Regions from separate parts of the Homo sapiens genome. Here region 2 is linked to region 1. Evidence: fine-mapped expression QTL. A gene starts in region 1. The other region holds a variant in brackets. All regions are shown on one strand. Distances are between the middles of the regions.

What was found. PIP is the estimated chance that this variant, and not a neighbour inherited with it, causes the effect.
Region 2: its variant is fine-mapped to the expression of KDM4A in whole blood (TOPMed, PIP 0.98).

What each region holds. Positions count from the first base shown.
Region 1 is chr1:43,642,864-43,658,758 of GRCh38, reverse strand. KDM4A (lysine demethylase 4A) reads right to left here and starts at 8,610. Exons shown (of 22, transcript NM_014663.3): 1 at 8,507-8,610; 2 at 5,446-5,622; 3 at 2,993-3,168. The coding sequence starts at 5,583. RefSeq lists a silencer at 8,724-8,843.
Region 2 is chr1:43,698,047-43,713,941 of GRCh38, reverse strand. It overlaps KDM4A (lysine demethylase 4A), which reads right to left. Exons shown (of 22, transcript NM_014663.3): 20 at 10,206-10,325; 21 at 9,830-9,922; 22 at 8,424-9,712. The coding sequence ends at 9,572. It overlaps ST3GAL3 (ST3 beta-galactoside alpha-2,3-sialyltransferase 3), which reads right to left and starts at 6,406. Exons shown (of 12, transcript NM_006279.5): 1 at 6,249-6,406. KDM4A-AS1 (KDM4A antisense RNA 1) reads left to right here and starts at 6,601. Exons shown (of 5, transcript NR_033827.1): 1 at 6,601-6,883; 2 at 9,485-9,589; 3 at 10,295-10,378; 4 at 11,214-11,286; 5 at 13,190-14,218. ST3GAL3-AS1 (ST3GAL3 antisense RNA 1) reads left to right here. Exons shown (of 4, transcript NR_125986.1): 4 at 4,407-4,550. RefSeq lists silencers at 5,939-5,988, 6,019-6,518 and enhancers at 6,649-6,728, 6,454-6,971. The variant A/G (reference allele first, on the strand shown) is at 9,138.

The DNA of each region.
Region 1 (15,895 bases):
GGCCCAGGCAGGCGGATCACAAGGTCAGGAGATCAAGACCATCCTGTCTAACATGGTGAAACCCTGTATCTACAACAAATACAAAAAATTAGCCGGGTGGTGTGGCGGGCGCCTATAGTCCCAGCTACTTGGGAAGCTGAGGCAGGAGAATTGCTTGAACCCAGGAGGCGGAGATTGCAGTGAGCCTAAATAGCACCACTGCACTCTAGCCCGCGCCACAGAGTAAGACTCCATCTCAAAAAAAAAAAAAAAAAAATCTGACTAAGTAACTGCCTTACACTTTAATGTCAACCTAGGGAATAATAAATTTTAGAGACCTAACATTCTCTCTGAAATACAATTAACTCCCCTATTGTCAACTAATCTGTTTCATGAATTTAGGTTTTTAGGTTGGGCACGGTGGCTCATGCCTGTAATCCCAGCATTTGGGAGGCCAAGGCAGGCTGATCACTTGAGGCCAACAGTTCGAGACCAGCCTGACCAACATGGTGAAACCCCGTCTCTACTAAAAATACAAAAAAATTAGCCAGGCGTGGTGGTGGGCACCTGTAATCCCAGCTACATGGGAGGCTGAGGTAGGAGAATCGCTTAAACCTGGGAGGCAGAGATTGCAGTGAGTGAGATTGTGCCACTGCACTCCAGCCTGGGCAACACAGCGAGACTCTGTCTCAAAAAAAAAAAAAAAAAGTTATGTTTTTACTTTAAAGGTAATCTGCTATGTATTAGGACGAAAGGAATAGACATAGGGCTGGTTAATTTAAAAGGAAAACAAGTGTGCTAAAAGAAGAAAAAGCGAGACCAGCCTGGCCAATATGGTGAAACCCCATCTCTACTAAAAATACAAAAAAATTGGCCGGGCGTGGTGGCGGGCTCCCAGCTACTCGGGAGGCCGAGGAAGGAAAATCACTTGAACCTGGGAGGCGGAGGCTGCAATGAGCCAAGATTGTGCCACTGCACTCCAGCCTGGGTGACAGAGCGACACTCCATCTCAAAAAAAAAAAAAAAAAAGAAAAGAAAAAGCCTTAACAAAAAGGGAAAAAAGGCTGAGGAGACTGAAGCCCCTGGCTGAATTCCATGTGAGAAACAGAAGGCAGGTGAGTTTGCTCCTCATGTGTAGCAAAAATCAGACAATAAGGATGGCAGGAAGGATACAGCCTTTCACCTGCAGAGCCCCACATTTCTTCAACATGCCTTTATGTAAATTCTCTCATCGGTCAGCAGGTTGGCCAGCAAGGTAGATGTTTTAAGAGTTAAGGTTGGCCGGGCACGGTGGCTCACACCTGTAATCCCAGCCCTTTGGGAGGCCAAGGCGGGTGGATCACGAGGTCAAGAGATCGAGACCATCCTGGCCAACATGGTGAAACCCTGCCTCTGCTAAAAATACAAAAATTAGCTAGGTGTGGTGGTGGGCGCCTGTAATCCCAGCTGCTCAGGAGACTGAGGCAGGAGAATTGCTTGAACCCAGGAGGCGGAGGCTGCAGTGAGCCGAGATCACGCCACTGCACTCTAGCCTGGCGACAGAGCGAGATTCTGTCTCAAAAAAAAAAATAAATAAAAGGAGTTAAGGTGTCAGCCGGATGCAGTGGCTCATGCCTATAATCCCAGCACTTTGGGAGGCTGAGGCAGGAGGATCGCTTGAGCCCAGGAGTTCAAGACCAAACTGGGCAGCAAATAATAAAAAATATTAGCTGAGCGCGGTAGCACATGCCTATCTATACCTCCAGTTACTTGGGAGGCTGAGCAAGGAGGATCATTTTGAGCCTGGGCAGTCGAGGCTGCAGTAAGCCATGATTGCACCACTACACTCCAACTTGGGTGACAGTAGAGACGGTGAAACCCCGTCTCTACTAAAAATACAAAAATTAGCCAGGCGTGGTGGCAGGCGCCTGTATGTAATCCCAGCTACTCGGGAGGCTGAGACAGGAGAATTGCTTGAACCCGGGAGGTGGAGGTTGCAGTGAGCCGAGACTGCACCATTGCACTCCAGCCTGGGGAACGAGCGAGACTCCACCTCAAAAAAAAAAAAAGATGGAGTAGTCAGAGCTGAACAAGGAAACACAAAATTTATTCTCTGTGAATCTCAGGAAAAATGAGAACTAAACATTAAAAACAGCGGAGAAGGGCCAGGAGTGGTGGCTCTTGCCTGTAATCCCAGCACTTTGGGAGGCCAAGGCAGGAGGATCACTTGAGGTCAGGAGTTCAAGACCAGCCTGGCCAATGTGGCGAAACCCTGTCTCTACTGAAAATACAAAAAATAGCCAAGCATGGTGGCGCGTGCCTGTAGTCCCAGCTACTTGGGAGGCTGAGGCAGGAGAATCACGTGAACCTGGGAGACAGAGGTTGCAGTGAGCCAAGATCACTCCACTGCACTCCAGCCTGGGCAATAAAGTGAGACACCATCTCAAAAAAAAAAAAAAAAAAAAAAAAAACCAACAGCAGAGAAGAACTGAAAACAGGCCTACACAAAGAAAGATATCTCTAAAAGAGACAGGAATGTACAGAGAAAGAAGGAGTGACAGAAAATAGCAACCAGCTTGGTGGTTTACTCACACTGTTAATGTCAAAACAGAAATGAGCTAGCAGGCTGGATGGGCAGTGAGAAATTCCAGCACAATTAAACACAGAGCATCCCGAGAGAGAGGAAGTGGAACTAAAGCACTTTTGATGAGCAGGTGGTTGATAATACCCAGCAAAAGCTCCTTGTGCACCACATCCAACTTTCTCCTTGCAACTTTAGAGTCAGAAAATGATTCTACTTCTGATGGAAAAACAATGGGATTTGTTGTTATAAGAACAGGAACAGGTTTAGACTGGGACACAGTCCTGAGAGGAGGGAATGCTTCCATAAAAAAAGCAGAAAGGGAGACAGCTAGAACAGAGCCATCCTGCTGAAGACACTGTTCATCAGGACAGCAGCAGTCCTGGAGATGCTAGGAGGATGAGACACCAGGGTCCTAGGTGCTATGTCAGGTAAGAAAGGGTTTCCACTCACTTATCGCTATTGGCTATCTTGCGGAACTCTCGAACAGTCATGGCTTTCTTCTGTATGTTGTACTGAGTAAAGAGGCCAGACTGCCCCGTCACCAGCTGTTGAATGGGGGCAGGAATGACCAAATCATCAATGTCATCATAGGATGCTCGTGGCTTCCACTCTTTTGGAGGAACAACCTGAAGGGAACACAAGAAACAAAAAGACAGATGAGAAACCTGGCAAGCCAGTCAGAGTCCAGGAAGCATGTAGTTACCAGCCAACCTAACAGTCAATTTTACTAGACAGTTACTTTGATTTACCCACATTCACCAAAACACAGTAAGTCACAGGCATGCTAACCCTGATCCACTTTTGCCACCAACCAGCTGCCTAATTGCAGCAACCTAAGGTAAGTAATACTTGTTCCCAGCTTCAGTATCTTATTTGGACACCAAGAAAGGAGATTAAAGACTTGATTCTCTCTCAATCTCCTAGCCCAGGGCTCTCTTTAAAAAAATCACAAACACAACTTTACTTGATTTGGTCAACTCTATACTTGTACAGAATTTCCTTTTTTCACACACTAGATTACAGTTTAATTACAAAGAAGCATAACATTCTTAAAAATCTAATCTTGAGGCCGGGCACAGTGGCTCATGCCGGTAATCCCAGCACTTTGGGAGGCCGAGGCAGGTGGATCACCTGAGGTCAGAGTTTGAGATCAGCTTGGCCAACATGGTGAAACCCCATCTCTACTAAAAACACAAAAATTAGCCTGGTGTGGTGGCACTCAACTATAATCCCGGCTATTTGGGGGGCTGATGCAGGAGAATCGCTTGAACCCGGAGGCAGAGGTTGCAGTGAGCCAAGATTGCGCCATTGCACTCCAGCTGGGGTAACAAGAGCGAAACTCCATCTCAAAAAAAAACAAAAAAAATCTAATCTTGAATAGTTAAGTAAGATAGATCTGCTTTATGGAATACTATACAGCTTTTTTTTTTTTAATTAGAGAGTATTGTTTTACTTTATGTAACAAGGGAGAAAACAACACACACACACACACACACACACACACACACACACACTCACAAGCATCTGCATAAGGCAACACTGAAAGGACATATAAGAAAATACGGAAAGGGAGCAAGACTCTACATTAGCTACCTTCCAATAGCATTCTGTTTTTACTCACATAATCAAATTACCCATTCCAATAGTAATAAATTAACAAGACAGTCGACATGAGAAAAAAGAAGAATGAGTTGAATCCATAATTGACCTAGAGGGAGGAATATATGTTGTTAAAAAGGAAAAAAGAAAAAAAAAAAGAAAAAAGAATGAACGAACCAACACAGGAATGTATATGGCATGATGCCATTCTCTTTTAAAAACAAAACAAATAACACTATTTTATATGTGTGTATGTTTGTATGAGCAGAGAAAAAGGTGTGGAGGGAGCTAATACCACTTAAGGAGACGGCACTGGAGAAGGTGGATGAAGATCAGCCTTTTCTTTATCTGCGTTTGAAATATTTAACTTGTAATAACCGACATTTTTTTGGTAACTTTAAATCTAATAAAGTACAACCAAAAAAAGCAATGTGCTATGAAAAACTGCACTGCAGGCCCTGCTATTCCCGCCTGCTGTTATTAACCCAGCAGTAGCCGTATCTGCAGATAAGAAAGAGGATGTGGTCGTCTCAAGTCTCTGGAGGCACCAGGGTCCAAGACTGGTCCTCAGCTTTGTAGCCAATGTTCTTGCTTTCTCTTTTCATATTGAAAATGTAACAAGCACATATGGTAGGGAATTCAAACAACATAAAATGGTGTAAAAAATTTCCTCCTGGCTTAGACTGAGGTCCCTGCCTCTCAGTTTCCTGAGGATCTCTCCAGAAATGCAGTTCTTTCAGCTTCCAGCACTCAACCTGATTGTGACAGAATATATGAAAAGCTGATTTGACTCAGGAAAAATAACGAATCCAACTCACAGGAGAAAGAAGTACAAACCAGAAACCAATTTCAAATTACAAGGACCAGAATACTCATGTTGGCTGGCCAGTGCATTCTCTCCCCTTGAAGAAAGTCCACATGGGAAGCCAAATTGCTACTAGAGTGCTGGATGAGACTGAAATGAGAGCAAGAGAAGTCAGATGGCATAAGCACTCACTGGCAGTTCAATAACACCACAGCACCCAGCTCCACCAAGAGGGCTGAGGCACAACAGCAGCCAGGCCTGGAGACACTAGCTCTTTACCTCCCCCTTTCTGAAGATTCCAAGTAGCTCTCTTCCTACCTAAAAGCAGAGATGCTTCTGATGTTAACAACGGGAATTAACTTGCAAATAGAACCGCATTCACTAAAGTCATCACCCCACCCAACTTTCAGTAAAACACAGTTCCGGCCCAAATGTAGGAAAAAAATCTTACTGCTCTGCCCTAGGTAACAAAACCATTTGAACAATCCCAGCTCCTTACCTTGGCTAGCCCTGCCCGATGAGCTCCTTGGGATTCAATGTAGGCAATGTATCTACTGAAGTTTCGGAACTCTTCCATAGTTGGATAAAAGGTCATTATCCTAGCACTGGGATTCAGAGTTTCAGACTCAGAAGCCATTTTCCCTCCTTTTTGAGGTCCCTTTAGTCAGACAGGAATCTGAAGAAACACATTAAGAGTATAAAATAATATAAAAATTAAAATTAAGTGCTGGAAACATCAACTCTGAAAACAGTAAAAGATAATATAGAAATTCAAAAGACACAGTTAAGACTTCACACCTGGAATCTACCTCTAGAAAAGTTATTTAGGGGCCGGGCACGGTGGCTCACGCCTGTAATCCCAGCACTTTGGGAGGCCAAAGCGGGTGCATCGCCTGAGGTCATAAGTTTGAGACCAGCCTGGCCAACACAGTGAAACCCTGTCTCTACTAAAAATACAAAAAATTAGCTGGGCATGGTGGCGGGCACCTGCAATCCTAGCTACTCGGGAGGCTGAGGCAGGAGAATCACTTGAACCCGGGAGGCTAAAGGTTGCAGTGAGCCAAGATTGCGCCATCGCACTCCAGACTGGGCAACAAGAGCGAAACTCCGTCTCAAAAAAAAAAAAAAAAAAAGAAAGAAAGAAAGAAAGAAAAGTAATTTAGGGTGGGGGTGTGGTGGCTCAAGCCTGTAATCCCAGCACTTTGGGAGACTGAGGTGGGCAGATCGCTTGAGTTAAGGAGTTTGAGACCAGCCTGGGCAACATAGTGAGACCCTGTCTCAAAAAAAATTTTTTTTAAATAAACAACAAAAAGTTATTTAAATAAACTAGAAATACAGATCGAAAAGGTTCTGTTTAAAAAGAACCTGATGTATCAAAACTGCATGGATTCAAACCTTATTTCAACAGAGACATTGTTACTGCAATAGGATTGTTCTTGAAAGAAAAAAAAAAGAAAATTGTTTCAGCTAAAAAAAGGAAACTAATTATTTAGTTGTTGGTCCTAATAGTACAGCTAAAATGCCCATATTTTACCCTTATCCTTTCAAGCTACTCCCTTATTAACACCTTGCTAATCACTTTTCAGAGTATTAAACAGAATACACTACAACTTGAAAGCCACCCATGGCTGGGTGCGGTGGCTTACGCCTTGTAATCCCAGCACTTTGGGAGGCCAAGGCTCCTCCCTAGGGCACAGCTAAACCAGATACCTAATAAAAGTTACGTGGCTACAAGATAACAAAACTTAAGGGTTCAAAAGTACTTTGATATTAGTAACATGATTTAAAAGCCCTTTGATATTAGTAACATAATTTTAAAACCCTAAAGTGAAACTGTTCTGTTGAAACTAAGATGCAGTTTCAGCAGTACTTAATGAAATCAAGCTACAGACAAGTTCAGTTGCACTGTACCCAGAACTCAAAGGACAAAATTTAAACTGGCAATACACGGAAAACTTCATAACTGATTGGAGAAAGCAAAATAAATACTTTGTTTTTAGATGAGAACTTCAGCTAAGTGGGTGCATCCCCACAGCTCGGTAACGCAATAGACCACCTCAACTGAAAAAAGACAAAGCATATCAATGAAAATAGGCCATTCTAGAAGGAACACCAGTATGTCCTTTCCTTTACCCACCCTCCTCACTGAGGGTCCAGCAGTTCCGTACCCCCTATCTGGGGCCCAAAGGTATGGCGGTTCAGCTCCAAGACTCTCTTTGAGAGTTGGAGAGCTCAGAAAGGAGAAAAGCGCCTCCAATCCACCAGAAATCTAGTTACAGGCCTGGGAGCAGAACACGGAGCACAACTGTGTAAGGTAGGAGAGAAGGCAAATCCAGTTACCCGTATCTCCTAGGCTTCCTATCAAAAATAAGGCGTGTTTCTAAACAGGCGCTTTTCATGAACCTGGCAGAAACTTTGCATGGCAGGTATACTGTTCTCCCTGTTTTACATACCAGGAAATTTGCCCACAGCCCACTCTTAAGTGCACCTTCCACTGCTCTATACTGCTTACATACTCATCTCCACCTGGACTAAGTCCTCTGCAAGGGCAGCTCCAAGTGTGGAGAAACCCGAAGTTTATTTAATTTTGAAGACCCTCTTAAAAAGAAAAATGAATCCAAAATATCTTACTTTTGCACATTTTATAAAAACATACAATCATGTGAATACAATGTTGGGGCCCTTCCCCGGGCCTTCAAAGGGGCCCTAATGGGCTTCATCAGCCTCTGCCCCTATTCATCTTTGTATGCCTAGAACAATGCATGGCACAGAGTAGGCAATCGGTAACTGTTGAAAAACTGATTTCCTCACCCTCACCTCAATTGTTCATCCCTTCTTCAACCCTAGGATTCCCTTCCCCCAAATCTGTTCCCTGGGGAAAGCTCCCGTTTCATGACACCTTCCCTCCCAATCAGTAACAAAGCCTAGAGATTCAAGAACACCGGCTCCGAAGTCAAAACTCTGAATACAGATCCGGTCTCTGCCGTTTATTAGCTATGTGACCTTGGCTGTGTGAGCTGACTTGAGTCTCAGTTTCTCCACCTGTAAAATGGGGATCCCAACCCCCTGCCCTGCAGGGTCGCTGTGATTAGCTCAGATGATGCAAGCGAAGCACTAAGCACTAGGCCCGGTACTTACCCACTCAATAAAGCTAGCTGTTGCTAACAACCCCCTCGGACTCCCGCACCCTTCCCTCGCAGCCGCTCCCGCGAGCATCACTCCAAAGGCAGCGCACCCTGCTCCCCACCGTCCCCGAACCTCACCGCGCACAGGTTCGGCCCCTCCCGGCCCCGCCGCCTTGGCGAGTGAAGCTCGGCCGCAGGAAGAAGAAAATAAGGCCCAGATGACCCGCCCCCCTCTCCCGAGGTCCATTGGCCTTGAAGATTGGAAAGGACCAATCTCAGAACCCATTCTGGAAGCTCCTTCTCCTATTGGCCGAGAAACATGCCGATCACTCACCGCTGGAAGACCCACCCCCACCGCCCCTCCCCCACCAAAACTCACGGTCACTGCTACAGCGGCAATGATCCTCGAGAATTCCAAAACCCTATAGTTCTCACCTACAGCCCAAAGCCCCGCCAGGGCTTAGGCTCAGCTCCTGCTGTCGCCACTGGCCGATCCTACTGCTTTTCCAGCAGGCGAAGGCCGAAACTCCGCCTCCTCTAAAGTCGGCATCTGCGCAGCCGTACAGAGTCAACCAATTCAAGGGTGGCTGCAAGCCATACACCAGCCAATGAGCACGCGCCGCAGCCACCTCCCAGTCCCGACCTCAGTGTGCTCAGCCTATGAGCGCCGGCTCGGGCTGTTGCCGGGAGGAAACGCTGTACCACTAGGGACCGCGGCCAGTGAGCCTCTAGCTGGATCGCGAAGCTGGCCAATCATAGGCGGGCTCCTGGTCACCCATAACTAATCAGGGTTGAAAGAAGCTAGTACCTGGAAGTGGGCCGGTCCGGTAGATGGGTAAGGGCGGTGAGGTTACTATAGGATGTCGCTAACGAAAGGATAGGCCAAAGTTTTCTTGGGATGAGTATCCTCTTTGCCTAACGTGGAAATGTGTCGGGGCCCTTAGGGGCAGCTTCCGAGCTCAGGGAGTGCTGAAAAGATGACCGTCTTGTCCCGGTTTGTCCTGGGTGTCTCGGTTTTCAAAACAAAATCCCGTGGCCTTGGAAACCCCTCATTCGCTGTCAAGCCTGAACAGGGAAGGGAAGCTGCCCTGAGGGTCATTAGGACAGACCATGAGGGAGGCTCTCCTTAGGGTCATTAAAAAGCAATTCCTGGCCGGGCGTGGTCCCTCACGCCTGTAATCCCAGCACTTTGGGAGGCCGAGGCGGGCGGGTCACCTGAAGTCGGCAGTTTGAGACCGCCTGACCAACATGGAGAAACCCCGTCTCTACTCAAAAAAAAAATACAAAATTAGCCGGGCGTGGTGTTGCATGCCTGTAGTCCCAGCTACTCCGGAGGTTGAGGCAGGAGAATCGCTTGAACCCGGGAGGCGGAGGTTGCGGTGGGCCGAGATCGCGCCATTGCACTCCAACCTGGGCAACAAGAGTGAAACTCCGTCTAAAAAAAAAAAAAAAAAAAAAAAAGCAGTTCCTCAGTGAGCGGGGATTTGGGGGATCATTAGGAGCAGCTCTTGGGGCGGAGAGGGGGGCATCCTGGGAATCAGAAGAGGCACTTCTGGAGGGCGAGGGGGCTTCCTAGAAGTCATTAGGAGCGGTTCCTGAGGGGTAGTGAGTCGCCTTAAGGAATTCCCAGATTGTCAAGGGTAGTGGGGAAGGTCAAGTAGGAAAGTAAAATACCCACAACCAGAGTCATAAAAAAATATACAGAATTACCATGGATGAATAATGGGGTAGTGCCCTGGAAAGAGCTATATGGAGTCAGGCCTGTGTTCAAAACTAGTAACTTCTCTGAGCCTGGGAGTTCACATCAATAAAATGGAAAAAATAATGCCTTGCAAATTTTGTAAAGATGAGAGTTAATGAATGTTGGCAAAAAGAACATATTTCATAGAATGCTATGGACCAATCATGATTTATGCCTCAGGCTGGGTACATGCCTACTGAAAAAAAAATCTTTAAAAAAAATAGTTTCAAAAACAGAAATGACTGTTTCAAAAAGAATGGCCGTTGGCTACGCAGCCACAAGTCTTTCACAATAGGGGTTTTTGCCCTTACCCAGTAAGGTAATCGACAGTATTAGATAATAGATTATACTGAGTGGCTCACAAAAGTGCCGAGTCTGAAGAATCCAACTTGCAGGACACATAAAGAAAACCCAAATCCTGCGGTAGAATTCATCCACCACTGTCTTTCCTGCTGCCACTAAGCACAAGATACTGCAGGTTGCTTCACAGACTCCACTGTCCTGGACATGGATACAGTCGCTAGTTACTGTTACTGTGTTCCATAAACTGGATTTTGCTGTATTTCCTGGTGCTGCCAGATGATTTCCAAGGGCCCTCTACTGTGTATCACTAGCTTCCAATTGGTATGTGCATGTGATAGGTGGAGCCTAAATCAAGTTCTCGTGATATGCTCCCATTTTTCTGACCAGTTTTCCTGTTTCCTTTTTAAGCTCACCTTTCCCTTTGCACACTTTTTGTTTGTTTGCTTGCTTTTTTGTTTTTTTGTTTTTGAGACGGAGTTTCGTTCTTGTTGCCCAGGCACGATCTCGGCTCACTGCCACCTCCGCCTCCCAGGTTCAAATGATTCTCCTGCCTCAGCCTCCTGAGTAGCTGGGATTACAGGCGCCCGCCACCACACCCGGCTAATTTTTTTTGTATTTTTAGTAGAGACAGGGTTTCATCATGTTGGCCAGGCTGGTCTCAAACTCCTGACCTCAAGTGATCCACCCGCCTTGGCCTCCCAAAGTGCAGGGATGACAGGCGTGAGCCACCGTGCCCAGCCCCTTTGCACGCTTTAAATGTCGATATTCTAAGCAAAACTAACCTATAGCAATAAAAGTCAATGTTCTGGTTACTTTTAGGTAGGGGACAGGGAATGATGGGAAAGGGTGGCACAAAGAATGCTCTGGGGTGTTAGGAATTTTTTTTTTTTTTTTTTGAGATGGAGTTTTGCTCTTGTTGCCCAGACTGAAGTGCAGTAGTGTGATCTCGGCTCACTGCAACCTCTGCCTCCCAGGTGCAAGTGATTCTCCTGCCTCAGCCTCCCAAATAGCTGGGATTACAGGCACGTGCCACCACGCCCGGCTAATTTTGTGTTTTTAGTAGAGATGGGGTTTCACCCTGTTGGCCAGGCTGGTTTCGAACCCCTGACCACAGTGATCCACCTGCCTCGGCCTCCCAAAGTGCTGGCATTACAGGCACGAGCCACTCCGCCCAGCGGCAATGTTCTATTTCTTCATCTAGATGGTGGTTATGCTAGTGTGTTCACATTGTAAAACTTACTTTTATTTATTGGTTAGATAGATAGATAGATAGATAGATAGATAGATAGATATTTTTTTGAGACAGTTTCATTCTATCACCCAGGCTGGAGTGCAGTGGTGCCATCTCAGCTCACTTCAACCTCCACCTCCTGGGTTCAAGCGATTCTCCTGCCTCAGCCTCCCAGGTAGCTGGGATTATAGGCGTGTGCCACCACGCCCAGCTAATTTTTTGTATTTTTAGTAGACAGGGGGTTTCGCCATGTTGGCCGGACTGGTCTCAAACTCCCAACCTTAGGTGATCTGCCCACCTTGGCCTCCCAAATTGCTGGGATTACAGGCATGAGCCACCACACCTGGCCACTAAAATTTTAAATTTAAAAAAAAAATTTTTTTTTTTTGAGACGGAGTTTCCCTTTTATTGCCCAGGCTGGAGAGCAACGGCGTGATCTCAGCTCTCCGCAACCTCCACCTCCCAGGTTCAAGTGATTCTCCTGCCTCAGTCTCCCAAGTAGCTGGGATTACAGGCATGAGCCACCACACCCGGCTAATTTTGTATTTTTAGTAGAGATGGGGTTTCACCATGTTGGTCAGGCTGGTCTTGAACTGCCAGCCTCAGGTGATCCGCCTGCCTTGGCCTCCCAGAGTGCTGGAATTACAGGCGTGAGCCACCACGCCCGGCCAAAAAATTCTTAATAGAACTGGGAGGCTGGGTGCAGTGGCTCTCATGCCTGTAATCCCAGCACTAGGGAGGCCAAAGTGGGAAAATCACCTAAGGTCGGGAGTTCAAGACCAGCCTGCCCAACATGGCGAAACCCCATCTCTACTAAAAATATAAAAAATTAGCTGGGCATGGTGGTGCACACCTGTAATCCCAGCTACGCAGGAGGCTGAGGCAGGAGAATCGCTTGAACCCAGGAGGCAGAGGTTGCGGTCAGCCGAGATCACGCCACTGCACTCCAGCCTGGGTGACAAGAGCAAAACTCTGTCTCAAAAAAAAAAATAGAAGTGGGGTCTCCCTATGTTGTCTCAGCTGGTCTTGAACTTCTGAGCTCAAACAACCCTCCTGCCTTGGCCTCCCAAAGTGCTGGAATTTCCAAGCATGAACATGCCCGGCTGTGAAAATTAACTGATCTGTATGCTTGAAAGTTGTGCATAAGTTTTGATATACATATACCTTAGTTTTTAAAAGTAAATTTAAAATTTTTTAGTTAAAAAAAAAAGGAAAAACATGTTAATGTCCTCATAGCTTTAGGTCCTTTGCCCTCTTCTCTCATTCTACACAGTCTTCTTAGGTGCTTTTGTTTTATTTTTTCTTTGAGTTAGGGTCTCCCTCTGTCACCCAGGCTGGAGTGAAGTGGTGCAATCACAGCTCACCGCAACCTCAACCCCCTGGGCTCAAGCGATTCTCTCACCTCAGCCTCTCAAGTAGCTGGGACTACAGGCATATGCCACCAAGCCCGGCTAATTTTTGTATTTTTTTGTAGAGACGGAGTTTTGCCATGTTGCCCAGGTGGGTTTTTGTTTCTGTTTCTGTTTTTGTTTTTTTGACAGCTGCCCACGTGCAGGTGTTTCTGGCTCTACAACTCACTAGCAAGTTACTTAATTTCTCTAGTTCTCAAGTTTTCTCATAACTAAAACTGGGATAGTACTTCCCTTTCTGGGTTGTGAGAATTGAATGAGATAAATGAAGTAATGGGATAATGAAGTAAACCAGTTAGAAGTCTAATTGGCACGTAGTAAGTGCTCAGTAAATGTCAGCTCAGTAAATGATGATGATGGTACAAAGCACTTAGCACAGAGCCTGAAACAAGAGCTCAATACACTTTCACTCTTAGGCTGCACTCATGTGCACACTGATGACACCCATTGTATATCCCAGACATCTTCTCCCTGGAGCTCAGATCCATGTATCCTGCTGTCTCTGGATCCCTCCCCCTAGTTGTCCTACAGTTACTTAAAGCTGACCTACCCAACAAAGAGCTACTCTTGCCCCACAAATAAGCTGTACCTCCTAGGTTTCCTATCTCAGTTAGTGGAAGAGCCATGACCTAATTGCTTAAGCCAGGTGCAGTCCATTACCTCACCCTGTCCAGAGCTCCACAAAGCAAGTATTTTACAAATGCATGGATTTGTTTACATGTGCATCTTTCCTCACTAGACAAAAGTCTCGTGAGAATATCATTTTGGTCTTATTGCTAATACCGTTTAGGAATGTATTCCATTGCCAAAAATAGAAAACCCTAGCAAAAGTGGCTAAATACAAGTTTATTTTCTCATCGGATAAGAGGTCTGAAGGTGGTGAGCCTTAGCTCAGTGCTCAACAAAGTCATGAAACATACAGGTATGTTCCATCTTTCTCTTGCACCCTTTGCAACGTGGCTTTTGCCACCCTCTTGTGCAACTCGTGATTGTAAGGTGACTGCTGCAGCTCCAGAAGGAGGACAGAGACAGTGTCCTGTTTCTTCTATCACACCAGCAAAAAGACTACCAGAATCTGCCTGCCTGCCAGTAATGAGTGGAACAGACCCTTTCCTGCACTCATGGTTTTTATAATCTAGTGAGAGAGAGACATGAAGCAAGTGCTTGCACAAAGAAAGAAAATTATAGGCTGGGTGTGATTCACACCTGTAACCCCAGCTACTCCTGAGACTGAGGCATTCGAGGCTGCAGTGAGCTATTATGGAGCCACTGCACTCCAGCCTGGATGACAGAGTGAGACTCTTATCTCAAAAAAAGAAAAATTGCCACAAAGTTGTGCTTGCTATGAAGGAAAAGAATAGGGGAGAACACCTTTAGAGTGACTTGCCACCAATGGCAGCAGGATTTGGAAATAAAGCTATCATGGCATAAAGTGTATGCCATGTTCCCAGTCCAGGGTTTCCTTTCCTAGAGCTTCACTTTATCCAGCACTCAGCACAATGCCGAGCACATGGCAGGCATGACATAAGTAATCATAATGGCAATATTATTCGCTTAAAAAGTTAACTACACCTAGGCCAGGTGACGTGGCTCACGCCTGTAATCCCAGCACTTTGGGAGGCCGAGGTGGGTGGATCACGAGGTCAGGAGATCGAGACCATCCTGGCTAACACAGTGAAACCCCGTCTCTACTAAAAATACAAAAAATTAGCCGGGCGTGGTGGTGGGCGCCTGTAGTCCCAGCGACTCAGGTGGCTGATGCAGGAGAATGGCATGAACCTGGGAGGTGGAGCTTGCAGTGAGCTGAGATTGCGCTACTGCATTCCAGCCTGGGTGACGAAGCGAGACTCCGTCCCCCCAAAAAAAAAAGTTAACTACAGCTGGGTGCAGTGGCTCACTGCTGTAATCTCAGCACTTTGGGAGGCTGAGGCCAGTGGATCACCTGAGGTCAGGAGTTAGAGACCAGCATGGCCAACATGGTGAAACCCTGCCTCTACTAAAAATGCAATAATTAGCTGGGCATGGTGGCAGGCGCCTGTAATCCCAGCTACTCGGGAGGCTGAGGCAGGAGAATTGCTTGAACCCAGGAAGTGGAGGTTGCAGTGAGCCGAGATCGTGCCGTTGCACTCCATCCTGGGTGACGAGCAAAATTCAGTCTCAAAAAAAAAAACAAAAAACAAAAAACAAACAAACAAAACAAAGTTAACTACATTTATTGAGCTGTTATATTTCAAACACTGTGCTAAATGCTTTATATGCACAAAAATTGTTTACATTTAGATATATGCTATCATTAACAATGTTCTTTTTAATAATATAATTTAATGATTTTTAAATAAATTTACAAACGCATGCAACTATCACCCAATCCAGTTTTGGAACATTTCCATCACCTCAATAAAATCTACCACCTCAAAAAGATTACCCGTGCCCAGTTATAATCAGTCTCCATTCCCACCCCCAGCCCCAGGCAATTATTAATCTATTTTCTGTCTATATAGATTTGCCTTTTCTGGACATTTCATATAAATAGAACCATAGACTATGTGGTCTTTTGTGTCTGGCTTCTTTCACTGAGCATAATTTTTTTGAGAGTCACCCATGTTGTAGCATGCATCAGTATTTCCCTCCTTTCTATTATTGAATAGTATTCCACTGTAGTGTTGATTGATGTTTGGGTTGCTTCCACTTTTTGGCTATTAGGAATAGTGCTGCTATGAACATTTACATGCTAGCCTTTGTGTAAATGTCTGTTTACATTTCTCTTGGGTAGATAACAAGGAGTGGAATAATTGCTAGGTTGTATAGTAAATTTGTGTTTATCTTTTTAAGAAACTGCCAAACTATTTTCTAAAGTAGCTGTACCATTTTACATTCCCATCAACAATACATGAGGAGTCCCATTTCTCCATATTCTTGCCAGCATTTGGTACTGTCTATCTTTCTGATTATAACCATTCTAGTGGGTGCCAAGTAGTATTTCACTGTGGTTTTAATTAGCATTTCCCTAATGACTAATGATGTTGGGCATCTTTTTATGTGCTTATTAACCATTCATATATCCTCTTTGGTGAAATGTCTATTCAAACCTTTTGTCAATGTATTAATTGGGTTGTTTGTCTTCTTATTATTGAGTTGTA
Region 2 (15,895 bases), 55 kb before region 1:
GTAATTCCCTTATGCCTAACACTCCCAGCCTAGCATCATCCATCACTTAAAATGCATATCCTTGTTAGTAAGACCTAAAATAAATGCAAAAATAAAACCACAACGTGGCTGGCCGTAGTGGCTCACGCGTGTAAACCCAGCGCTTCGGGAGGCAGAGCTGGGCAGATCACTTGAGCCCAAGAGCTCGAGACCAGCGTGGGCAATATGGTGAAACCACATCTCTATAAAAAACACAAAAAATTAGCTGGGCGTGGTGGTGCGTGAGTGCCTGTGGTACCAGCTATCTGGGAGGCTGAGGTGGGAGGACCACCTGAGCCTGGGAGGTTGAGGCTGCAGTGAATCGTGATCATATCATGCCAGTGCACTCCAGCCTGGGTGATAGAGTGAGTACTTTTCTCAAAAAAAAAAAAAAAAAAAAATCCCACAACGTTGGCATCTTTAGGTAGTGAGATTTAAGACTAGTGATCACCTACCATGAACCAGGTAATATACTAAAGATTAGAAATATTATAACTGTTTTTTATTATTAAACTATTACTTGTATAGATCTACTAATAGCTCAAGACCAGGCTTTTTACACCTATTCCCTCCAATCCTCAGAGCAACCTGGCAAGGTAGGAATTTTTGTCCTCATTTTCCAAATTTGAAAACCAAGAAGACATGACATTCTGAAGCCTATCCAAGGTGACACAATAGAAACTGGCCAGGCTATGACTGAAATCCTGGTCTGCTGCTCATCTAGCCCTAGGAAGCACACAGACATGCCGCTCACATGTTGCACCAGCGTAACTATCCTTCCGTCCAGTCTTACCTCATTCTAACCTTCATCCTGCATAAATATTTTATGACTCTTGTGTAGTAGGCATGGTACTATGGATGCAAACCTCAGAACTCCCCATGTGAGGGAAATAGCTATTCACTATTCTGCCTCTTCCACACAGTGATGTTCCTGAAAGGCAAAGCTGACAAAGTAGTCACTTTCTATCTTCAAATCCTTCAGTGGCACCTAATCACCTTCAGGATAAAGCTCTAACTTCATAACTCACAAAGACCTTCACAATCTATTCTTGACCGATTTCTGCAGCCTCATTTCCCACACACTCCCCCAACAGGCTCCATACTCCTGCCACACCAGTGTCTTTAGGATGTAGCCACATTCTTTGCTTCTAGGCCACAGCACACATTGTTGCCTGTGTGAAAAGCCTTTTAAACCCATATCCACCCAGCTAATAACTACTGATTTTTCAAGATGTAGGTCAGATGTGAACTTCCCTAGAAAACCAGTACTCATATTCCCCACGATATCAGGTGCGCTTTTAGAAGATCCCACAAGACCCTCAACCACAGCCCTTGTTATAATGTATTCTGCTTCTGGTTATAATGTATTCTTTACTTGCTTCTGGTCCTACTAGACTGGAGGTTCTTTGAGGCCAGGGACATGTCCTTCATACCTATCAAGCCACCACCTAGCACAGAGCCTGGCAGAGCTTATGTTCAGTACACATTTGTGGATGATGAGAGCACCTGGTCTAGTAGGAGAGAAAGAAATGTATACACTCACATAAAATATGAAAAATGTGAAAATAAGAGATCGTAGGGATGCTGTCCAAGGGAGAAAAAAGGTGGGGAAATCCAGGGGAACCCTTCTACCTGTATTTCTGAGGGCTCCTTACCTGATTTCTCAAGTTTCTTCTAACCTTGCTGCAGCTGGTTAGAAGCACTGTGATCATGAGTGCTTACTGTGAACCACGTGCTCTGCAAAGCACTTTACATGAACTGACTTGTTTAATTCTCACAACTGCCCCATGCATTTCACTGATGAGGAAACTTAGGCTCAAAAATAAGATTCCTGCTTAATGTCAGACAACTATTAATAGTGGAAGAGCCAAGATCTGAACCCAAATCTGTTTCCTGAACCAGGGCTCCAACCAGCACTGTTTCTATTGTCTGTCAAAAGTGAAACCTCCTCCCCAAATACCAAGTTTGCTAGGTTCAATTAAACCAGTAAGGTTAAACTAAGATTACTTTTTAATTTTAACCATTTGAGTGAAAATGCACCTAAAATTATTACACATTTCCCAATTTCTTATAAATTGAATACCCTGAATATAATTTAACTTTTATTTTTTGCTATCTCAGAACCATTGCTGTATTTGTTACTAAGAATGCTGTAACATAGTAAGTTTTGTAAAAGACATTCCTCAGGAATGACTGTGTCATAACTCGGATGTAACAGATTGCCCTTGTATCAACACCCTTGGCCTGTGAGCATTTACAAGTGCTTGGAAGAGTTTTGACTCTGAATCTACCATTACCCCATGCCTGGTTAGAGCTATTATTTCTTGCTACTGTCAATGTTTGTCTCTAGCAGCCCATCTGATGTGCTACCTCTAATCTTCAATGGGCTGTGATACCCCAGATGAGGTAGTAGTCATTAGTGCTATGCACCAAATATTTCTGGCTCTTTGCTTCCCAGACATATGCTAACACTGAAATTCTCTAACCTTCTTTAAAGTTAGGCATGGCTATGTGACTTGCTTTGGCCAATGAAAATGTGAATGAAAGTGGCATGTGCCATAGTGGGACAGAAACTTGAAAAGCCAGTGTCCACTTGACCACTATCTTTTCATTTAATCAAAATGGTCATGGCAGTACCATATTAAGATGGAGTTTCTATCAGCCTCAGTTCCTGAGTAACTGTGAAGAGTTTCCTGTACACTCATGCTGGACACGTCACATGAATGAGAAGTCAAGTTTTGTTCTGTTACGCCACTGAAGTCTTGAGGTTTTTGTTAGTGCAGCCTAATCCAAGCTATCTATGTCAATACAGATCTCTCAGTAAGGGATTCTCTCACATAAACAACTTTATTTATAGATTTTAATGATAAACATTTTGTTTGGATAAAGAATTATCTCTGCATCCATCCTGATTCAAAGCTATTTTCAATATAAAATATATTTGCCAAGTACCTACTATGTACAAAGTTGGATGATGAAGAGGACAGTCTATGTCTTGAAATAGCTTCAGTCTTATACTGTGGGTAGAAGCAGGATTTAAGGCAATTATCGCAAAAAGGCAGACTCTAATGTTATGGTGGTTTAAACTTAAAGAAGAGAGACAGCTCATCTAGATGGGAAGAAAAAGTACAGATAAGCTTCACAAAGGAAGTTCCGTATCAAATGGCCCTGAAACATACGTAAGAACAATTAAAGTCAAGGAGACTATTTAAGATAGAAAAAGCCAACATGAGCAAAGATACAGAGCACAAACAGCAAAGCACAAAGAGCAAATAGTTCCATTGACCTGGAAAATATAACAGAATGGCAAGAAATCAGTTTGCCCATATTGCCCATGCCAGGCTGGTCTGTGCCTAACGCAACAGATAATGGGGAGCCATTCAAAGTCCTGGCTGGAGAAGTGACAAACTTGGAAGTGATGGCAATACACATGATGGATGGAAGGAAAAAAATGTTAGGGGGTTTCTGTGGTAATTCACAGGAATGGTCCAATGGCCCCAGATCAGTGTGATGACAGTAGGAGTGAAAAGAAGCAGATGCCAGGCTAGGTATGGTGGCTCATGCCTATAATCCCAGCACTTTGGGAGGCTAAGGTGGGCAGATCACTTGAGATCAGGAGTTCAAGATCAGCCTGGCCAACATGGTGAAACCCCGTCTCTATTAAAAATACAAAAATTAGCCGGGTGTGGTGGCACACGCCTGTCGTCCCAGCTACTCAGGAGGCTGAGACGGGAGAATTACTTTAACCCAGGTGGTGGAGGTTGCAGTGGGCTGAGATGGGGCCACTGCACTCCAGCCTGGGCAACAGAGGGAGGCTCTGACTCAAAAATAGAAGCAGATGCCAGAAACAGTGTGGAAGTAGGGTCAACAAGACCTGGCACCCAACCAAAAACACGGGGAGAAAAAAAGAAGAAAAGTAAGAATAAACTTGAGGTGCCGCTTCTGGGTTGAGAGAACTGTTATTCCAAGTAGCTGAGGTGAATCAGAAAAGCGACAATGGGCTAGGTGTGGTGGCTCACGCATATATTCTCAACACTTTGGGAGGCTGAGGTGGAGGATTTCTTTCTTTCTTTTTTTTGACCGAGTTTCACGCTTGTTGCCCAGTCTGGAGTGCACTGGCGCGATCTCGGCTCATTGCAACCTCCACCTCCCGGGTTCAAGCGATTCTCCTGCCTCAGCCTCCCGAGCAGCTGGGATTACAGGCGCCTGCCACCACGCCTGGCTAATTTTTTGTATTTTTTTTTTGGTAGAGACGGGGTTTCATCATGTTGGCTAGGCTGGTCTCGAACTCAAGGTGGGAAGATTTCTTGAGCCCAGGAGTTCAAGAACAGCCTGGGCAACATGACAAGACCCTGTCTCTACAAAAAAAATTTTTTTTAATTCTCCAGGTCACCTGCCTGTGGTCCCAGCTACTTGGGAAGCTGAGGTGGGAGGATCGCCTGAGTCCAGAAAGTCAAGGCTGCAGAGAGCCACATTCACTGCACTCCAGCATGGGTGACAGAGGGAGACCCTGTCTCAAAAAAAAAAGAAAAAAGAAAAAGTGACAATGACAAGTAAAGTGTTACTGTATTCCTGATAGTTAGCTACAGCTTCCTTTGAAGTAAATTCTATTACTTGTTTACTCTTTGCACCACACAGGACAAAGGTACCTCTTGGATTAATGCCATCAACCTACCTTTTGTGCAACCTCATATCCTGCTTTTTCTGCTAAGAAACCCCCTGGAACCACCCATGAGCATCTCAGGTTCCCCTGCACCTTTGTCATCCTCACTTTCTCATCTGCTCACTTCTTCCCCTTCATACAGCCGGCTACCCACTCTTCATGACCCAATTCAAGCCTCAGCTTCCCTGTGAAACCTTCCTCAAACACATGGATTTCTCCTTTTCTCGGTTTCTCAGAGTACCTACCATCTTGGAATTCTAGAGACCATATCACAGTTATCATTGTCATGTGTGTGCTTTATTCCCTCAAGTATATTATAGGCCCATTAGAGCAAGTTTCTTATCTTAAATGGTTTTGAGTTTCCCCTCAGTCAATGCCTTGCATAAAATATGTACTCAAGAGGCGTTCCATTGATTGATACAAAGTCTGTTAGTCTCTGAGAACATGAATGTCTTGTTTCATCGTTAACATTTTATTTTTATTAAACCATGGTTAGACAGTTAGACACGCGAAATGGAGAGATTCACCACTTAATATCTCAAAATATCCTTAAGAATCTCTAATCATAGGAGGAGCTGTATTGCCTTAAGAGATTATTTGAAAGTATCATTTGGCTATAAATTTCTGTGCCAGCTTCCTTTTAATCCTCTGTTGACTTGAAAGTACACCAAACATTTCAGTGATCATCTCTACAAGATAATTCTGCCTTAGAAACAACCTAATTTGTCATGGGGACTATCTTACTTTTAGTAACCTAATAAGAGTTTTTTCCTACCTTAATGTCCAGCTATCTATAATTCACAGTACATCCACTGAAAAGTTTGAGTATTTTACTTTCTGAGGTAATAGCCGCCTTCACTGGTCCTTCCCTCAATTAATTACATTCAGTTATCAGGTTTCACTCCTTCCTCATACGTGAAGGAAACATAAATGAGGCTTACTGAGGAATCATAAAAATGGACATTGTTGTAAAAAGGAATCCAAAATGTTCATGGGACACTCTCCTAACCAAACCTGCCCTCCTCACTAAGATATTTTCTCTTGCAAGCAAAAGCACCGAGGACACAACGGGGGAAAGTGCCAGAAGGAAAGGAAGCAAGAGAGGCGTACTTTGCCGATCAAACTGACCCCAGTTCTGGCCCCCGCTAGAGCAGTAAGCAATGACAACCGCTACCCAAACGCTGCCGATTCCCGCTCAGGCGCTCCCTGGACTTTTCTTTCCTTTTCCCACAGCAGGGCCCGAATGACGGTGTCCGTGCTCTGCGCCAAGGTGCGCAGCGCTGCGGGGTTTCACACGGAGATGATCTCAGACCTCCTGGCCTGCGTCCGGCCGGCCTTTCCCCCAGGCTCGGCGGCCCCCACCCAGGAGAGGTCATCCAGGTACTGGGCCCCCAGCCCGAAGGACGACTGGGCCGTGCCCCGACCCCGCCTTCCCGGGCACTAGCGCGCGGGCTCCGCGCCCCGCCCAGCCCGGGACCCGCGGCCGGCGGGGGAGGGGCGGGGCGGAGCGGCGACCGTTATTCGCGGTCAGCCATCGCGCCCCGAAGCGCACTGGGCAGGCCCTTACCACAGCGGAGAGGGAGGCAGGGGGGAGGTGGCGCCCGGCCCGACGCGGGGCAGGAAGGCGGAGGCAGCGGCGTAGGCGGCGGCGACAGCCGCGGGGGACCCCGGCGGGAGCCCACAACGCGCTGGGCTGCATGGGCGCCGCCATAGTGGGGACGCAGCGGCGGGCGGAGCGCGCGGCCGCGACCCGGTCGGGCGCCTGCGACCAATGGGCTCGCGGAAGCCGGGCGGAGCGAGGGCCTGGCCAATGCGGAGCTGCGCTGCCCCGAGCAGCCCAATAGACGCAGGAGCCGCGGATTTGCCGTCCCGCCCACCCCGCCTACCACGAGAGCAGTGCTGCGGCGAGTGCGGGGCGAGAGGTTCGCGCTGGTGGAGCACCCCAGCTTGCAGGTTCAGCGTGGGTGTCTCTCCCGGGCACATCGAGCTGTCTAGAGGAACCCTCTTCCCCTGGCTTCACGGCCCAGAGGACGCACGGCTCTCTCCCCTCGAGAGCGTGTTTCGTCGCCCGCGCGGGGAACGCAAAGTGCTAGGGTAGTCACGGCCACTTCACGCCGAGGGACATCTCATCTCGCCCTCCAGGTCGTGAGCGCACCCATTCCGCTCACTGAGGCCGAAAGCTTCGGACCTCCGTGGGCCCTGGTGGGTAAGGGGGCACGGGGGTGAGCGTTAAGAGACTCGTAGAACATTTTTAGTCCGCGCGTGGCACAAGGCCTCCAAGCCCCACGTACACTTTGCAGCCCTCCCACTCCTTTTTCATTCCTGCGGCTGAGCCCTGGTGTTATCCGCCTGGGGCGGAATTTAAAACTTAATTCCTCAACAAAGTCGGGGTGGTCTTTAAACTGCAACCTTGGATCCAAAGGCCCTACCTTACAAAGGGAAGGCAGTTTGCCCTACAAAAAGGCTTCTGGGAGGAGCTGCCTAAGGCAGGAAGGGACTGGCAGGCCGGGAGGTGCCGCTTTTGGCTGGGGCCAGTTCTCTTGAGGTCGACCCGACTGCATAGGCAGCCAGTAGGGGAGAGAACGGGCCGGTCTGTGTGATTTGGATCACCTGAGTTGCAGTTTCCTAAGAGTTATTAGGTTGACCAAAAAAAAAAAGTGCAGTTTCTGGAAAACTGGTCAGCTGTTGAGTAAAAACTGCTGGGATTAAACCCAGCGCCCACCCCTGGAGGCAGTGGGGTCATCGAGAAAGGTAGGGATCCTGTGTAAAAAGGCTGGTGAAGTGTTCCTCTCTTCCAAAGATGTATGGATTAGTGTTCTCTCACCAATCCACTAAGGCCTGGTTCTGCCCAGCCTCCCTTGCTACATCCCCTGGGAATCCCCAAGTGGAGTGTGGGCAAAGAAAAAAAAAGGCCAACTTCCCTCCCTGGGCCCCAGGAGGGAGCTGACATAGAAAAGATCACCTCCTGCACCTCCCTTTCTCCACAATGAGATACCAAGTAGCAACCACCTCTCAACCCCCAGGGACACAAGGAAGCATCCAGAGCAGCTGAACTGACCTAAGCCTCTCCTGCACCTGGACAGGGCCATGCCACAGGAAGTGCCTGGCTGTTTAAGGGCCAGCCGGTGCAGCTCCGGGGCACCCAAGTCCTGCACCTATTCATTGCCCCCCTCCCTGCTCTGTGGTTCCCCATCCTTGTCCACTTTGACCTCAGGGATCTACCAGCCAAAGGAGATTGGGTCTTCCTCCAGGGAAGCTTCTCACCAACTAGACAGCTCGGAGAGCAATCTGAGGATCCCACTGGAGGTTGAGTCCCTTGCTTTTCAAGCACCTAAAATGCACCCATCCTTCCCACTGGTTCCACAATTTGTATAGAGCACAGATGCTGGCATGAACTTAGGCCAGTTCAACAAAGATGTATCAAATGGGGCAGCAGTGAGAGATACTCTGTTGAGAGGACTCATTGGTCTGGTGCTTCCTCTGTTACCTCATCTTGCCCGTCTCTAAGGCAGAGCAAGCACAACAAAGAGGTGCTCAGAGCCAGAAGTGTCCCTGCTCCCATGACCCACCATACTTGGCCTAATACAGAGCTTGACAAGCAAAGGACCCACTCTCTGGAACTTCCTAGGGAATGCCTTACTGATTTGTCTTAAAATACACAGCCCCGCTCCAGAGCCTATGACTCTAGATACACCCCCCAGCCTGACGTGGGCCACGTGGGCTCCTTGGGGCAGACAGCCAATCCTCTGCTCAACACATTTTATTGCTAAGGACAAGGTGATGCACCAGTTTTCAAAATAATTTGGTTTATAGTGTTCATACGTAACAAAAAAGGGGAAGTATTATAAATCTGATTCTTGTATACACAGGGTATTGGTGTGAAGCCCTCCAATCCTGGGCCCAGGCAAACAAATTCTTGAGGAGCAAAAACCTGTTTAACCCCTTCAGTATTGCCCTCTAGTCCCACCCCCCACCCCAAAATCAGCTCCCTCCCACCTACAGTGGGCCTCCAATGGCCCCAGTTTTTTCATCCTAACCCTCCCAGCCCCTGCATGATTGCAATTTTCTGTTGACAGAATCACCCACCAGGCTCTGCCTGCTTCCATCATTAAAATCCCCGATTCAGGGTAATCCCCACCCACACCCTGTAATACTTTGCCACAGGGGCTCTGCACCTAGAGTGTTGTGGGCACACACCCATGTTATCCCCATGTTCTCCTTTAGGGGAAGACAAAGAGGTGGCATCAGCTCCTTAGCATCTCAATACTGCAGCTTTGCCAGCACTGTCTTGAGACGGTTCCAGGCCTGGACAGATGCCACACCCATCTCCAGCCAACCCCCAGGAGCCCTTACTCAGCTCAGCTGAGGGCAGAATTTCACATTTTGTTTGCCCTGCATAGGCAAGGAAGAAAGTAAAGGCCAGGGGCTGGCAGAAGCTGGTCCAGACCAAACATAC[A/G]CGCACGCACGCACGCACGCACACACACACACACATATAAATACAAAAGTAGGGGTTGGGGCAAGTACCAGCACCTCAGCCTAGTCGGTGCAGGTGATAGTTATGAAGCTAAGTCCTAGGCCAGGAACAAGGCAGCCAGTCCAGCCAGCATAGTTGACCCCTCTATGGACTGGGGCCAGTGCAGCCACAGCATTCCAGTGCTCAGCCCCTCAGCTGGGAGATCAGCGACTGCTGCCACGTGCCCAGAAATGGCTCGTCCTTTCACTACAGCGGAATGCAATGAGGGTGGGTGAGAAGATGATGGGTCGGTTATTTCATTCCTTTTCTTTTTACAACTTCACTTTCAGAGACTTCAGCGTTCCATGTCTGCTGTGCTGTGGAACCCAGAGTGCTCTTGCCTGGATGGCTGAGAATCCCTTGGACCCTGGAAGCACCTACTCCATGATGGCCCGGTATAGTGCAGGCTCAATATAATCTTCCCGGTATCTTGAGTTGATAACTCGTTGCCGTTTCTTTTCTTGCTTAACCTCTTTCTCTGTGAAAATCTCATTGAAGCGCATGTCTGAGGCTACTGACTATAGAAGAATAAGCAAGCCAAGTGTCAGCTACCCCAGGAACAATACAAAGGGATGCATCCTTGACTTGTTCCCTCCCTCCAAGACAGGAACTGGGGGGACACAGAAAATACTCACCAGTCTAGATTTGACTCTCTTGGGAAGCTCTTCATCCAGTGTGTATACATCATCTCTCTTAACCACAAGTTGTGAGCCATCCTCAAACTCCACCTACCAAGGAAACAAAGGCCTTTTGGCTAGGATATCCCTGACTCTTTCCCTGGTCCACCATGCACAGTGGCAGTCCCCTACAGTCAAAGGAAGGAGTTAGAACACTAAAATAACAACTACCTTACTTCACATTTGGCAGACTGGAAACAGGGCAGACCCCTAGCTCTGAAAGGGTTACCAACCTATTAGTTCTCCTAAGAGCAAAGACTCGCCTCTGGCCCAACAGGAAGCACAGAATTAATCAAGCACCCCCCACTCCCTAGAAAGGTAGAACTTTGGATACCTGGTACATTTGGATAGGGTGGGAGGCCACAAACTTGGCTCCATAGACTTGGCCGTCTGTCCATCTCACTTGGACCACTTCCCCTTCAGCAGGAGGACCAAACTGGAGACAGTCCTGGCTCTGAGGAAACAGGAAGGAAGGAGGGTGAAAGGAACGTCCACCTGCACACAAAGGTAACTGTCCTCTACTCAGGGAAGAGTGAACCAGGACAAAGTAACTGTTTTAGAGAGCAAGGCAGCTCTCTGGGCTGAAAAATGTTAACAGTTAAAGACCTTGCTAAGTCAAAGTCTGCCCCTATCTCTGCCCTCTCCTGCTTCTAGGTGACCAAAAAAAAAAAAAAAATCCAGCTATAACAAACTTAGTAAACACAGGAGTTAAGTGCCAGAATCAAGAGTCCTTCTTACATTCCCTCAACTGTTCCCCTGCGGGTTCTCCAGGGCTCTGCCATGAAGAAATACTAGAACCATACTCAACTATAAGACATGTGTTTTTTTTGGCCAGGCACGGTGGCTCATGCCTGTAATCGCAGCACTTTGGGAGGCTGAGGCAGGCAGATCACCAGGTCAGGAGATCAAGACCATCCTGGCTAACATGGTGAAACCCCATCTCTACTAAAAATGCAAAAAATTAGCCAGGTGTGGTGGCAGGCGCCTGTAGTCCCAGCTACTCGGGAGTCTGAGGCAGGAGAATGGTGTGAACCCAGGAGGCGGAGCTTGCAGAGAGCTGAGATCACGCTGGAATACAGTGGCCTGATCTTGGCTCATTGCAACCTCAGCCTCCTGGGTTCTAGCAATCCTCCTGCCTCAGCCTCCCGAGTAGCTGGGACAACAGGCACGTGCCACCATGCCCAGCTAATCTTTGTATTTTTAGTAGAGACGGGGTTTCACCATGTTGGCCAGTCTGGTCTCGAACTCCTTACCTCAGGTGATCTGCCTGCCTCGGCTTGCCAAAGTGGTGGGATTACAGGCATGAGCCACTGTGCCCAACCAAGAAATATGTTCTTAACAGGAAAGATGAAAAAGAGTCACCTACCATGGGACCTGGCAAAGTACTTCAGAACTTTTATTCCTTCCAGAAGCAGGTAAGTACCCCAAGTCCTCATCGTATTCCCAGCATAGGGCTTGGTATACGGGGGGATATTTCATTCAGCATATTGGCTGAATGAAAGGTCTGATAGGTATACCTGGGAGAAGGTCCTTAGGGACATGGCTTAAAAAATGAGAGAGGGGCAGGGCAGTGAGTCTAAAAGGATGTGGATGCTCACATCTGCTCTTACAATCATGCTACAGTTCATTTATTGAGTGGAAACAGTTCCCTACTTATTGACAATTCATTTACTGAATAGGTAATCAGTAAATACATTTTGTATCAATCTAACAATTAGGCATAAACTACAGCCTCCTACACCCAATATCTGAGGTGTTCTAAGATTTAACTACTCAAATGTTTGATATTTGATAAATTGTTTAAGTTCTCTGCAATTCAGTTCCACCTCCTATAACAGCACTTCTGAAAATGTGGTCTGTGAACCTCTGAGGGGTTCCTGAGACACTGTCAGGGAGCAAGTGAGACATGGCTATTTTTATAATATTAAACTATTAGCCTTTGTCACTGTGTTGTCATTTACCTAGGATAGGTACAACTGCTGGCACCTGAGCACAGATCAAGGCACTGACCCTAAGCTCTACTAGTTGTTATTGCATTTTTCACCACTGTACACTCATAATTTAGGAGAAAAGAGCAAAAACTCTAGATTGCATGTAACAATATCCCTTGATGAAGCAGTAAAAAATTATTAATGTTGTTAAATCTTAATCATTGAGTACATGTGTTAAGTCCTCATAAGACACTTTTGGTTGTCTCAAAGAAATCTATCTGTGTTGTTTGAGTTGTGAATTACACTAGCTGCTTTGTTCATGGAATACCAGTTTTATTTGAAAAAAATTACTAGGCCAGGCATGGTGGCTCATGCCTGTAATCCCTCACTTTGGGAGGCAGAGGTAGGAGGATCGCATCAGCCCAGGAGTTCAAGACCAGCCTGGGCAACACAGGGGAGACCCCATCTCTACAAAACATAAAAAATTATCCAGGTGTGATGGCACACGCCTATAGTCCCAGTTACTCGGAAGGCTGAGGACTGCTTGAGGCCGGGAGGATGAGGCTGCAGTGAGCCATGACCATGCCACTGCACTCCAGCAGTGGTGCTGCGCAACAGAGCAGGACCCTGTCTTTAAAAAACTCTATGAAAATTTAAAAAAAGAAAAAAGTGACTGACAAACTATGGCTTTTCAGACTTAGGTATCTGGCAGACATCTTCTTGAAAATGCATGAAGTGAACGCCTGTCATGTCAAGGAAAACAAAAGTCAGTATCTGTTGCCAATAGTAAAATTCAGGCTTTCAAACAAATATTAGCATTTCAGAGAAGCGGCATTCACAACTGTGAGCTTGAAACTTCCCAAAATTCCAAGTTTTTTGATTATTAGTGATACTAACAAATGTAATTTTTAAAATATTTATGGCCGGGCGTGGTGGCTCATGCCTGTAATCCCAGCACTTTGGGAGGCCAAGGCGGGCAGATCACGAGGTCAAGAGATTGAGTCCATCCTGGACAACATGGGGAAACCCTCTCTACTAAAAATACAAAAATTAGTTGGGCGTGGTGGCGTGCACCTGTAGTCGCAGCTACTTGGGATGCTGAGGCAGGAGAATCGCTTGAACCCGGTAGGTGGAGGTTGCAGTGAGCCAAGAACGCACCACTGCACTCCAGCCTGGCGACAGAGCGAGACTCTGTCTCAAAAAAAAAAAAAAATTAAATTTATAATAATATTTAACAACATTTGGAGGCTGTCGATAGGCCAGTGCACCAATATTTTCTAAATGACCAAAGTATGATGTTATAAAAGGATGCATGGGTGAAAGATCCATTCAGAAGAGACCAATGGGTTTTAGTGTTAACAGTATGAAACGTTCACTGACCTTTCAGATTCCACACTGCAACTAACTTTTAAGAACCTGCCAGGAGCAGTGGCTCACACCTGTAATCCCAGCACTTTGGGAGGTTGAGGCAAAAGAAATCGCTTGAGCCCAGGAGTTTGAGACTACCTGGGCAAGATGGCAAGACCCCATTTCTACAAATAGCCATGCATGCCTGTAGTCCCAGCTACTCGGGAGGTGCTTGGTCAACAAAGCAAGACATCATCTCTTAAAACAAACAAACAAACAAAAAAAGTTGTTACTTCCATTGAGTTTTGGTGGATATCAGAGAATAATAAACACAATTACCTGAAAGACTATTAAAATACCTCCCTTGGCTGGGAGTGGTGGCTCACAGATGTAATCCCAGCACTTTGGGAGGCCGAGGTAGGCGGATTGCTTGAGCCCAGTTTTGAGACCAGCCTGGGCAACAAGGCAAAACTCCATCTCTACAAAAAATTAAAAAATTAGCTGGGCGCCAGTGACAAGGGCCTGTAGTCCCAGCTACTTGGGAGGCTGAGGCAGCAGAATCACTTGAGCCTGGTATGTGGAGGTTGCAGTGAGTTGAGATCACTGCACTGCACTCCAACGTGGGTGACTGGAGTGAAACCCTATTTTAAAAAAACAAAAACAAACTCCTTTTTCCAATTACATATCTACGCAAGGCTGAATTTTCTTCCTATACTTGAACCTAAACAGTGTATCACAATAGATTGAATCAAGAAGTGACATTAAGGCCAGCGCGGTGGCTCACGCCTGTAATCCCACCACTTTGGGAGGCCGAGGCGGGCGGATCACGAGATCAGGAGATCAAGACCATCCTGGCTAACATGGTGAAACCCCATGTCTACTAAAAATACAAAAAATTAGCCGGGCATGGTGGCGGGCGCCTGTAGTCCCAGCTACTCGGGAGGCTGAGGCAGGAGAATGGCGTGAACCTGGGAGGTGAAGCCTGCAGTGAGCCAAGATCATGCCACCGTACTCCCGTACTCCAGCCTGGGCAACAGAGCAAGACTCCATCTCAAAAAAAAAAAAAAAAGACATTAAAGAGATTTGCAAAATTGCAGGGAAATGGCAATCTTTTGTTTTTGTTTTAGAAAAGTTATTTTTAATCTAAAAAAATTGATTATTTTAAATCAATCTGCTTTAATTTCTAATAAGAATAAATACGTTTAGATGTAACCCAGAGAAACACAGGCTCTTTGGGGTCTCTAACTTGTAGAAAATGGAGTCCTGAAACCACTGTAAGTTAGAGATAATACCACATCCTTCTCACAGTGGGTATGAGAAGATAAAGAGATACTTGAAATAACCACTTAGCATAGTGCCTGGCATACTGTACCAGCTTAATAAATTACAGCAAGGGCCAGGTATGGTGGCTCAAACTCTTGTAATCCCAGTGGTTTGGGGGCCCAAGATGTGAGGATCGCTTCAAGCTGCGAGATCGAAACCAGCCTGAGCAACAAAGCAAGACCGTTGTTACTACAAAAAATTTAAAAATTAGCCAGGTGTGACTGCATGTGCCTGTAGTCCCAGCTACCTGGGAAGCTGAAGCAGGAGGATCACTTGAGTTCAGGAGTTTGAGATTGCAGGAGCTATGATACAGCCACTGCACTCCAGCCTAAGTGACAGAGTGAGACCTGGTCTCTCTCAAAAAAAAAAAAAAAAAAATAAGGCCAGGCACAGTGGCTCACGCCTGTAATCCCACCACTTTGGGAGGCCAAGGTAGGCAGATCACTTGAGCCCAGGAGTTTGAGACCAGCCTGGGCAACATGGCAAAAGCCCGTCTCTACAAAAAATTAAAAAATTAGCCGGCTGTGGTGGTGCGTTCCTGTAGTCCCAGCTACCAGGGAGGCTGAGGTGGGATGATCACCTCAATCCAGGAAGTTGAGGCTGCAGTGAGCTGAGATTGTGCCACTGCACTCCAGCCTGGGCGTCAGAGTGAAACCCTGTCTCACAAATAAAATATAAATAAATGATAGCTATGCTACTGCTATGAGTACTACTAATGTCGCCTTTTCTATAAGTCTACCTTATAACTAATGAATGTGCTTTTAGCAACTGAGTGGCTAATGTGGTATAAACATGGGACAATACCTGATTTGTTAAAGGAAAAAATGGTTTCATTCCTCTCTACTTTGGTGGTCAGTCTACCAACTGAAAAGGCAAGGTGGGGGTAGGGGAAACCTGAACTAAGTCCTCACTACCAAGCCAGACCTAGGACTGGGTCCATGTGGGGCCACTGTGTCTCAGGTGTTGATAACATAAACAGGCCAAGGGTGTCTCCAGGCAGTTTCTACTTAGCCCTAAAGCCCACTGTGAAGAGACAAAAGCAGATTCTATACATCTACTAAGAGGGCCTGATAGAAAAGAGAGTTGGATAATTCCCCTAAAATCACACAGCTACTAGGCAATGAAGCTGGTATTGGCATATTTGATTCCAAAGCCTGGGCTCTCCTATTGCACTAGAATGCCCTCAAGGATAATTTAGACGGCAACAGATGCAGGTTTCAAGGAATTGCAGAAAATACTGATTCCCAGGTACTTCTAGGGAAAATAGGGTACCCTAGCAGCACGCAGTTTTCTTTGCAAAGAAAGACTGGTACAGATGATTCTTTCTGTTTGAGGACATGGTGATGGGACCAGGGACCTGGCTAGAAGAAGCAGGCATACACACACAGTCTGCCAGCCAGACCTTAGAAACATCCCCCCATTC